2 separate regions of the Homo sapiens genome follow, and region 2 is linked to region 1. The links come from fine-mapping of genetic effects on gene expression. A gene starts in region 1. The other region holds a variant in brackets. All regions are shown on one strand. Distances are from middle to middle.

Region 1 (5,383 bases):
TGGAAAGAGAAAGTTAGAATGAGTCTTGTGCTTGCATTCTCCGTCTACAAAATTTGTATGTAATCACACAGATAAAGTTCAGACATCTTATACTCTTTGACTATACTGAAATATATGTTGTCAGCAGTGCCTTAATGAAAAGTGATTGTTCTCTAAAGGAATCAAATGTAACAAGTTTAACATTCATGGTTCTTTATTTTTCAAAAATAATTTAGATTTCATTCTCCTTTTTTATTTTAAGAAGCCCAACAGAATTACCATATGACTATAATCTCATATCCTAGATTCAAAAACCAGGAGACCAAACACAAACAATGCCTCAGAGGAGAAAAGTTGTGTCTTAAGAATCAAAGTATTCTTGGGTATCGTAAGTGATTGCTGACGTAGAGCAAAGGGTTAATGAGAATGGGCTGGCATATTAAATCAGAATGCACGTTGAAAGCAAATTGCCAGCCTAAAGGAAAATATACGTATCATTGTCTCTGGTGAGGGAGGGGGACAAATAACTACTAAGATGTCCATACATGCCATACTCAGAAGTCATCCTTGATATCTTTTTTTCCAGACAGATTGCAAACACAAGTCTTTCTCCCATATGGGGGTGTGTGTGCAGGGGGTGTGGCCTGAAAATGCAGCATTGATTCTGGGAAAACTGAAACCTGGGAAGCCTGGGTATAATAGTTCAAGAAAACAGAAATGTTTTTCTTTGGCTGTTGTTCCTGAAGTTACTTAAATGAGACTCATTGGCTATTGATCTGTATATATTGAGATTACAATAAAACATAATGGACCAGTTTCTCTCTCCCCTGGGTCACAGGATTGGCCTTTTATCTCTTGAGAGTAATAAATCATGGTCTTGGATTTAAGAAAATATTCTGGGATCTGGTTGGCAGCTGATTTATTTTTAAGACAGTGATGTCAGGAAAAAAAAAAAGCATAACCCAGAATGTGACTGTAGTGGGAGAATAGCGATTGCTGTTTAAAATATTAAGTAAGGCTTCCCTGCTTTCAGAACCCATCATCCCACAGCAAGCTGAGTTGAAGCCCCTTACCAATATATTCACATCTTTCTTTACAATGGCACTTACATTCTTTTGATTTCTTTTTATCTGTGACAGATCCTAGCTTCTCTATTTATCTCTTGAATCTAATTTGCTCTATGACATCAAGCTTTAATTTTATCATTATTATTTTGCTTCATTTTAAGCACCCATGGTGTGCCAGGCATTGGATAAAATAGAAAAGATACAATCCCTGCTGTCGCTGGGCTCACACATTTAAAGAGATTTGACAGGCAAAATATCCTGTAATTGGCAATAGGTAGTCCTCATGCTTCCCCCCGCCCCTTCTCCCTTTTGAAGCAACTTCATCTCTCTGAACAAGCTTAAGAAGTTCCCTAGATCAAAGGTGTCAAAAACCAGAAGGGTTTGGAACAAGTGTCAGAGAGTAAGCAAACGACTTTCTGAGCTGTGACTCTGCTCCTCGACTGCCCACGTGCTCTCCGCTGTCTGCACTCCTGCCTCACCTGGGCTGACTCGGACTCTCCACCTCCTTTGCTGCTTCCGGCATGAGCTACCCAGGAGCCTAAGGCGCTCCTTCCCGCAACTCCGGTCCCCGCGCCCCGGGACTGCAAATCCTTTAAACAGAGGCCCCAGAGCTAGGGGTTTTCCCAGGCTCTGGTGGGCGTGGGCTGACAGTCGCTGGGAGCCCCGCAACAGGGGGGATGTCCAGGCAGGTATGCACCCAGCTCCCGGCGTTTCCCGGAGTCACCACAATGTTTCCCTTTCTCTCTCCCCCACGTATGCTGCTAGGGGTACTCCCCAGATAGGATTTTCTTTGTCTTTTCTCCTAGTAACACCGAAGCCCTCTCGTGCCCGGGGACTGCAGAGGAACGCCAGACCATCCGGACCTTGCGGGATGGCTCGGTGTGTGTGTTTTACTGTGTGTCGGAGTGTCGCGCATGTGTGCGTGTTGGGGCGCGTTATCAACAGGGGCCTAGGGCACCCCCACTCTTTCTTGCTCTCTTCCCCCATCACTTCATGGACCTCCGAGGCGCAAAGCGCTCGACCCTCTCCTGGGCTCAGTGGCTTGGGTACTCCGGGCTGAGCTCAGCTGGGGAGTCCCCTTACCCAGCCCGCACCGGCACCCCGAAGCTTCAAAGTTGCGGCAAACAGTTGCGGGGAGCAGAGGAACTGAGGTCCAGGCCAGCGCGCCCGCGGTCGCTCGCCTTGGGGAGCAGGCTGAGCCGAGGGTCGTGCGGGTGCGCGGCAGAGGCGGTAGGAGGCGGAGGAGAGGGGGGAGAAAGAGGGGGCGGTGGGGAACAGCTGCCGGGGTAGGCGAGGCGCAAGGTGGCTCCCCGCGGCCCCGCGCCCCGCGGCTCTCGGACGCACCAGGCAGCCAATGGCTGCGCAGAGGTGTACAGCAGATGGCGTCTGACTGCGCCGTTCCTTCCTCCTCCTCCTCCTCCTCCTTCTCTTCCTCCTCCTCCTTCTCTTCCTCCTCCTCCTCCTTCAGTGCTGAGGAGCCAGAGTCGCCGCCGGGTTGCCAGACGCTGGAATGGGTGGTCTTCCGACACACACCACCATCTTTCTTGCGCTCGGGAAGCTCGGGGCTCAGCGGCTCCCAGAGGTTACGGCGGCGGCTCTGGCGAGACGGGTGAGTGCAAGCACGCGGAGCCCCGAGTCGGGGATGCCGGGCCCCCTGGCCGGCCGACTGGGGCGCGGGGTGGCAGCGCCGGGGAAGGGGGCGCGCTGCCGGCGCAGACTTTGCTCTTTCCTCGCCGGACAGCCATCGTCGCCCCTTCTCCCAGCCAGACGCGGGAACTTGGAAGCGGATCTTCTCGGACGCCTCTGGCTTGGGGCTGCGGGAAGCGTGGGCTGCCCGGGGCGCAGTGTGCGGAGACCCTCTAGGCGGGCGGGGACGCCCCACGCGGCGACCTGAGCACCGACCTCATGCAACGGGACCGAACCTTGGGACCCGGGCAGCAGGAGCTCTGTTCCCTTCACCTCCAGCTTGGTTTGAGGGATACTGATGAAGGAAACCGGGGGTTTCCCGTCCTGCGCGGAGAGCCTCGGCGCCCAAAATCGAAAGGCCGGGAGTTGTTCTGCAGGCTTTGCAAACAGGTTGACTGAGGGTTTCCTTTCCCGTAGCGCTGACTGCGAAATCTGTGCATAGGCGTTCAGTGCCAGTGGAGGATAGCTGAGCAAGCCAAGAAGTTTTGCAGCTTCCTCTGATTTATCGGTGGAGTGTCAGGAGGCTGTAGCAACAGTTTACATTTCCCCTGTCCCTGCGAGTGGCTAGGGGCAAGCTGGGCTCGGACGTGATATCCTGCTGTTTGTGGAGAGGAAACTGGGAACGGGGCTTGAGAGTGAGGGGCAGGGAGGGGGGGACAGGCATATTTTCTACTGCATCGCCCATCTGCACCTGTCCCCTTTGCTGTCTTACATGTCCCATAGTATTAAAGTTATTTGAATAAGCAAATGAACCCCGCTCTTTGGTGACCGCGTATTTTGAAGTTGGAAAACTTTGCAGGGGACGAGGGAATGTTGAGGAGGGGGCGTTAAGCTCTCTCACTCTATCCCTTTTTAAAGACAAGAAAAAAACTTTCGTTGGCGAAGGTGGTACTTTTTTCTTTTGGAATGTCTGAGCTCAGAGCTTCCCATAAGAGGTATTGCGATTCAATACTGTACAGTCAAGGTGAAGTTCCACTAAGATTATGGGACCGTGGCATATTCTACGGAAGATACCAGGGTTCCTTGGCGCTCTGTTCATTGCCAGGGTGGTCTGCTGAAAGCCGGCAGTTTCCCACCCTCAGACTCCTTGGAGCTCTTTAAATGACGGTCTGCCTGGTGTTTCTCAGCGGTACACCTGTGAGTGCTCTGTTATCATGGAAATGGTAACCCATGCAGGTAGGGCTCATGCCAACCAGACTGTGGTGGGGTGTGTGTGTGTTTGTGTGTGTGTGTATACATGCGCGTGCGTGTGAACGTGTGTGTTTGGAGTTTCCTTTTGACAGGTAATCTTTGGATGTCAAAGGGATACAGTTATTTGTCTGGCAGTGTCAGGGCAATCTGAGTTTCTCGAGTAACTAGGAGGAGGTAATCTCCAGGGAAGCCTTTTTGTGCTCTTGACTGTCTACTCAGCAGTTGGTGAAGGCTTCCTGAAAGCCACTTAGGGTGTTACTAACCAAATCAAGAAGTCTTACTCAGTGGTGAGTGAAAGCTCGTGTCTTTGTGGGTTAAAAGCTGTTTATAAAGTTTCTGTCTTGAGGCTTCACTTTGACAGACTGCTGTTTTTAAACCTTAGTGCCATTAATAATAGGAGTCTTCTTTTGAAAAGTAATGTGGCCAGTTCTCTGTTTTCTGAGGGTAGTTGATCTAATCTGGTAGATTCCCTGGAATTGTTTTATTTTCTATCCCTGGGAAGTGTGTGTGTGTGTGTGTGTGTGTTGTGTGTATTTGTGTGTGTGTGTTTTCTTCATCTACCTGCTGAGAGTTGAGGGTTAGAAACTCTTTTTCATGCAAATTTAAGTGAAAAAAATTATGAAGAAAATTCTTCTGACACTGTAACAATATACACAGATACTTCTGAAAAAATTGTAGGTGTCATTGTTGACTTTAAAAACATCGGATAGTCTCGTATAAATCAGCACAGACAGATCCAGCAGCCCTGAACACCTACAAACCATTCAGGGTTTTGGATATTCTAGATTAATCTGTGATAAGGGCTTGGAGATACGTGGTCCAGGAAAGGGCTGTCTACTGTTGGTGGACTTTGATAGTCTGTTTTGAGGGTTCATAATACGATGAGCTCACTTTATGTCAACCTTAATATTTAAATCAATACTTGAGAAATGATCTTACAATATTTCTTAATCTTCTGGCCCATTGTTTTCCATCAAAGTTGTTGATTGTTAGAGAGTTGAAAGGCTAAGAAAGAGGAACACTGTTAGACAGGTAGAAAATAATTACCGATCATATAAACAATGTAAATACAGACTCTACTGTTTGAAGACTGACATTAACAAATTGGTAACGAGAGGTACCTTTCTGTTCTCTGCTGAGTGTGCCTTTTGAGAGAAAGTAGGGAAGGAATGAAAGGAAAATGGTACTAAATTGTACTTCATCAGAAGGGCTATGAAGGACCTTGTCTGCTTGCTACAGATCCTATTTCTGAAGGAATAACTCTTTTGTTAATATCAGCAAAAAGAATGTTGTCCTTAAATGATAGACCGAAAAAGCAGAATAAAAAGATAGGCTCTAAGTTAAAGGAGGGAGAATGTCCAAACAAGAACAATTCTAAAGCATGTCAACTCACTTTAATTATACTTCACAAATTGAAACTGGAGTTGTATGATTCCTTTAAAGAAAAAAAGTCTTGCCAA
Region 2 (5,383 bases), 58 kb before region 1:
TCCTAAGCTTCCAATTGCCCCAAATTCTCATGCTAACTTGCACTGTTGGCCCGATATGGCAGGACTGACTCTTTTACTGATTTCTCTTTCTATGCAATGCTTGATGATACTGAGAACACATTCAAGGCCTTAACACACTCCTCAACTGAGGATTGAAGCCAGTTGGTGTTTCTAAAATAAGGAATTTGTTTAGACATAATTATGCATCTTGTCAAATGCTTTAAGTGAGTTGGAGACACCCCAGAATAGAAGAAATTATGTGACATTTTGTTGCCGAATTGTCTTTTACTGGTCAAGTAGTACTAGTGAAAGCAGAAGAAATTGCCAAATCTCTTTGTGGGAGATAGAATAACGCCCCTTCCTGCCTGCCACCCCAAAATGCTCATGTCCTAATCCTCTGAATCATGAAACTGTTAATTCACATTGCAGATATGATTAAGGGTATAGAACTTGAGAGAGGGAGACTATCTTGGGTTATCCAGATGTGCACAGTTTAACCACACAAGTGTTTAAAAGTGGAGAACCTTTCCCAGCTGTGGTCAGAGAGTGATGTTACTATGGAATAAGAGTGGGAGAGAGACTTCACTTGCTGACTTTGAAGATGGAGGAAGGGAGCCATGAGCCAAGGAATTTGAGTGTCATCTAGAAGTTAGAAAAGGCAAGGAAATATCTTCTTCTTTAAAGACTCCAGAATGGCATGCAGCTCTGCTAACACATTGGTTATAGCTGAATGAGACCTGAGTCAAACTTCTAACCTACTATAAAATAATGGATTCGTATTGTTTTAAGCCACTAACTTTGTGGTAGAAATCTAATTCACTGTATTTCAGATATTCCTTTTCATCTTTATTGGGAATGTGGTCATTATTTATGTTCTGCACTTGGAAGGACTTGGATAGCGAAGAAAAAAACGGCTCATCCAAATAAATCTAAGGATCTTTGGGCAACATGAGTGTCTAAATGCTCTAAGGGTTATTTGTTTTGGAATAATCTAGAGTTGGAATGACTGACACCTCTTCTATGAAATCTTAGAACTCTGGCAATTCAGCAATTAATTTTTTTTTGCATCTGCTCGTGACCTTTCTAAAATGCTCGCTGGACAGCACTCCTCATCTTAAACTCCTTCAGTTGCTCTACTTTTCCTTCAATAAAATCCAAGCTGCTTGGCATGCTCCACAAGGCCCTTCAAGAAATAGCCTCTGCCTACTCTTTCAACTTTCCTTTTTACCACTTCTTAGGCTCTAGACATATCATTGTTTGCCATTCTCTGAAAGCATCACACTCTTTCTGACCTTCATACCATTGTGCAGGCTGCTCAAGCCTCCTTTTTCCCTTGGCTTGCTATTTGTTCATGACTCGGCTCAGGGAGTATTTTCTGCATGGAGACTTTCTTGTTGCTCTCCAGCCCCTCACACCCTTCGATCTTTTGTATTACCATATAACACTCACCTTAACCTCCATATCAGCACTTATAATTCTGTATTATGATGCATTACTTGTCTATATTTTATATGCTCCTTATAAATCAAAAGAACACCTTTCATTTCTAACTTTAATGACTACTACTGCACCTGGCATTTGGGAGGTACTCAGTAAGTACTTGATGAATGAAAGAATGCATCATGTACTCATTGTCTTTGAAAACTCTGGAGCCTCAATTAGGAATCAAAAGTTAGGTTCAGGTATTTAGAAGTTACAGGTTTTTGTGTGTGTGTGTGTGTCATTTTAAAGGTTGCCCAAGAGTTCCTGATTCTTCTTTCCTTTTTTTTTTTTTTTCAAAATAATGAGATATTTCTCCTACTCTGACCAATGCAGGACACACAGGGAAAAGAAGCAAATTTTGGAGCAAGAAGTTTTAACCTGGAACCCAAGTATTCCCTAGGAATTCCATGAATGGGCTTAGGGGGATCCTGTGGACCACCTGAAATATATACATTACTTGTCTACATGTTTGTTTCTGGGACAGACTCAGGAGGTTTCATCATATCAACACACAAATGTGGTCCAGAAATGCTGTTCTAATAAAGGACAGTAGAATTGTGGAGAAATACACTCAAACAAGACTTTCCTTGACTTTAGGTATCTCTAATTGAATTTCAAGCTTCACTCTTTTGGGAGATTCTTGTCACCACACCACATACAAAGGAAGAAATTATTTCTTTTCTTGCTTAATAGGCAGTTTGAGGAGGTAACCTCTCTGGGATGGTGGTGCAGTGGAGGGTGACATTGTGGCACACTTATGATAAACAAATAAGGATATCAGGATCAGAGTGGCCTAAGCACACTAATTTACGTGAGTTTTATATTTTCTTAAGACTGACAGGAAACTTTGAAGTGTCACCTTGCTTCATCACCTGCTTTGAAAAAATATTTTCAGATAAACTATATAAATTGGACTAAACTACATCCCATTCGTAAGTATACCTTTCCCATCCCTGAGAAGGTGGTTGCCGAACCTTATCCATGGCATTCCACACTTAAAAGGCCACTTGAAAAACAAAAAGCCAGAAGCCAGTTGCTTGGAAAATATTCTGTGCTTTCTCTTTTCCATCAAGTGTAATGAAGTGGAGAGAGATAAACATATGACCATGGATTTAAATCCTTTGGTTAAATGGTGTGCGGTCTTCCGAAGCAGGGCTCATGGCGTGTTCTCTAGACAGGCAGTATGCCTGCGTGCAGAAGCTCTTCTGC[A/G]AATAAACCATGAAGTTGCAAACTTAGGCACAGCATTTGAATAAGAGAAAGTAGAAAAAAAATCCCTTCCTTAAGGTCAACATCTATGTCTTTGTGAACTCATTTGGGGGACCTGAAGACACTTCCTTTGATAATTGGGAAATTTTTCCTTGGAGAAGAACAATTTTCTGACTGCGACATCCTAAATATATCCATGATTATCGAAACTATGACGCCAGGGCAGAGAGAAGCTGGCCACTCTGCCTCAATTAATATCTAACTGCACTTAATGCTGCATTAGTGATTTGGGGGTTTATGAGAATCAGGATGAAAGAATCAATCCTGCCATTTGAATCCACTGCATTCATTTGTTCATTGAAATGTCAGTTATTTAGAGGATCTACTGTGAAGCAAGCATTTTACTAAGTTCTGAGATTCTCCTAGATAGGTTGGTTGCAAGGGGCCAGGTATTTAGTTTTTTAGTAGAAAATGCCAGTGATTGCATCTTAGCTTTGTTTATTCTGCTGAATATTAATTAATCCATCTGTATTCGTTAGATATGTATTACTCCTACTTCTACCATGGGCAGAGCTATGAGCAAGGTGTGTCAGAGAAATAGAGATGACAGAGCACCAGTACCTTAATGATTTTACTATATACTTTTAAGTTACCCCTAAGCTCCCTTTTAGAAACAAGGAAGATATACACTATGAATAGAAGTGTTTTACTCTCCCCTACTACCTCTTTCCCTCTGGAGGAAGAGTTTTAGTATTAGAGTTCTGTTTACAGAGCCTGCTTAAGAGTCCAGGAAGGGCTGGGTTTGGTGGCTCATGCCTGTAATCCCAGCACTTTGGGAGGCCAAGGCGGGCGGATCATGAGGTCAGGAGATTGAGACCATCCTGGCCAACATGGTGAAACCCTGTCTCTACGAAAATGCAAAAAATTAGCCAGGTGTGGTGGCACGTGCCTGTAGTCCCAGCTACTTGGGAGGCTGAGGCAGGGGAATCGTTTGAACCCAGGAGGCAGAGGTTGTAGTGAGCTGAGATCATGCCATTGCACTCCAGTCTGGTGATAGAGTGAGACTCCATCTGAAAAAAAAAAAAAAAAAAAAGAGTACAGGAAACCTTTTGGCTGTAAGAGGTTGGTACTACTCTCTTGCATCAATTAGGGCTGGCTTTGCTTAAATTCAGGTTCACCAAAAGTTTTCAGTCTTCATAAAATCATGTAAATTAACAAATAGAAAATAACCTTAGGCCAGGTGCAATGGCTCATGTCTGTAATTCCCGTGCTTTGGGATGCCAAGGCAGGAAGATTGCCAGGAGTTCGAGACAAGCCTGGACAACATAGCAAGATCCTGTCTCTCTCTCTAAAAAAAAAAATAGCCAAACATGATGGCACACATCTTTAGTTCTAGCTACTCAGGAGGCTGGTGTGGGAGGATCACTTGAGCCCAGGAGTTTGAGGCTACAGTGAGCTATGGCTGTGCCACTGAACTCTAGCTTGGGCAGCAGAAAGAGATTCTATCTCTAAATAGATTTTGTTTTGGTAATTAAAAGAAAGAAATGAATCTTAGGAAGTTATTTTCCCTCTTCTTTTCTCTTCATAGCAGCATGTTTCATCTAGTCTATGGAATAGAACTCAATTTATTCTATGATTTTTGCTCAAATTTTACAGTCTGAATTACCCATGTATTTCTGAAGTTCACCCTCTTTCTACCTGCTAGCATCCTTTACTGCTTGTGACAAATGAGCTCACACCAATTGTCTTGTAGTTTCTTGGAGCTGGGACTTTTACCTTCCTTTGAATTATGTTGATGTCTGTATAACCTTTGTGTTCCTTCTCTTCAAAAATCCTATAAAATTTGCCTTTTGTTCTGCCATTGGCTAATATTGGTTCTGACTTGGAGTCACCCTAACTTTAACAGGACAAATGATTGCCCTTCTACCCATTACTGTAGTTAACATAACACATACATGATTGATTATACATGAAAGTTGTCTCTTCTCAAGTTCTTCTTTCCTCCTTTTGCACCACCCCTGTTCTTAAGTAAATCCTCATGACTAAAAACAAATCCTAACAATTTTTAGTGACTATTTCTGACTTCAGAAGATCTCTAAAGCTAAGAACATCGTTGAATTGGGCATTTTCTATTTAACTAGAGAATAAAGAATCTTGGGAGGTATAAATAGTGCTTTTTGATGTTGAGTTTGAGGAATTTTCCCTAGCCAAGAACAGCCTTACTTAAAATTCCTTGTAATTGTGACTTCATTAATAAATCAGGAAAATAAAGGAAGATATGTATAAATCTTTTTGGTGGTTTCTGTACACATTCGCTATGTTTATTTGCTATGCATTTAGAAGATAGGCTACACCGATTGATTTAAACCTTTATTTCTGTATATAATAGAGGAAAAAGATTAGTTAGAGAAGATAAAGGCTAATAAATCCCTACTAATAGATTTCAGTGGCAGAAGTTTGCATCATAACTCTAGGTAAGGAATAAGGTGGTACTTTTCTGTGCTAGGCTAGTGTGTTGTGCCTGCATTTAGTGTGGAATTTATCACTCTCCATTATTATTATTCCTATTATTGTTTGACTAACTATAAGCTCCTTTTTATTTTATTTTATTTTATTATTATTATACTTTAAGTTTTAGGGTACATGTGCACAACGTGCAGATTTGTTACATATGTATACATGTGCCATGTTGGTG

Alleles and levels. Alleles are on the strand shown, and positions count from the first base shown. SD is a standard deviation of normalised expression in the study named.
As copies of A replace G in region 2, the expression in coronary artery of the gene that starts at base 2,513 in region 1 goes down (large effect, 0.78 SD a copy in GTEx).

Evidence for each region. PIP is the estimated chance that this variant, and not a neighbour inherited with it, causes the effect.
Region 2: its variant is the best candidate, but not a certain one, in a credible set for the expression of THSD7B in coronary artery (GTEx, PIP 0.73).

Annotation. Positions count from the first base shown.
Region 1 is chr2:136,763,033-136,768,415 of GRCh38, forward strand. THSD7B (thrombospondin type 1 domain containing 7B) reads left to right here and starts at 2,513. Exons shown (of 28, transcript NM_001316349.2): 1 at 2,513-2,655. RefSeq lists an enhancer at 2,495-2,996.
Region 2 is chr2:136,705,361-136,710,743 of GRCh38, forward strand. No RefSeq gene overlaps it. Among named protein-coding and RNA genes, the nearest start is that of THSD7B, 57 kb to the right of the region's middle. The variant A/G (reference allele first, on the strand shown) is at 2,692.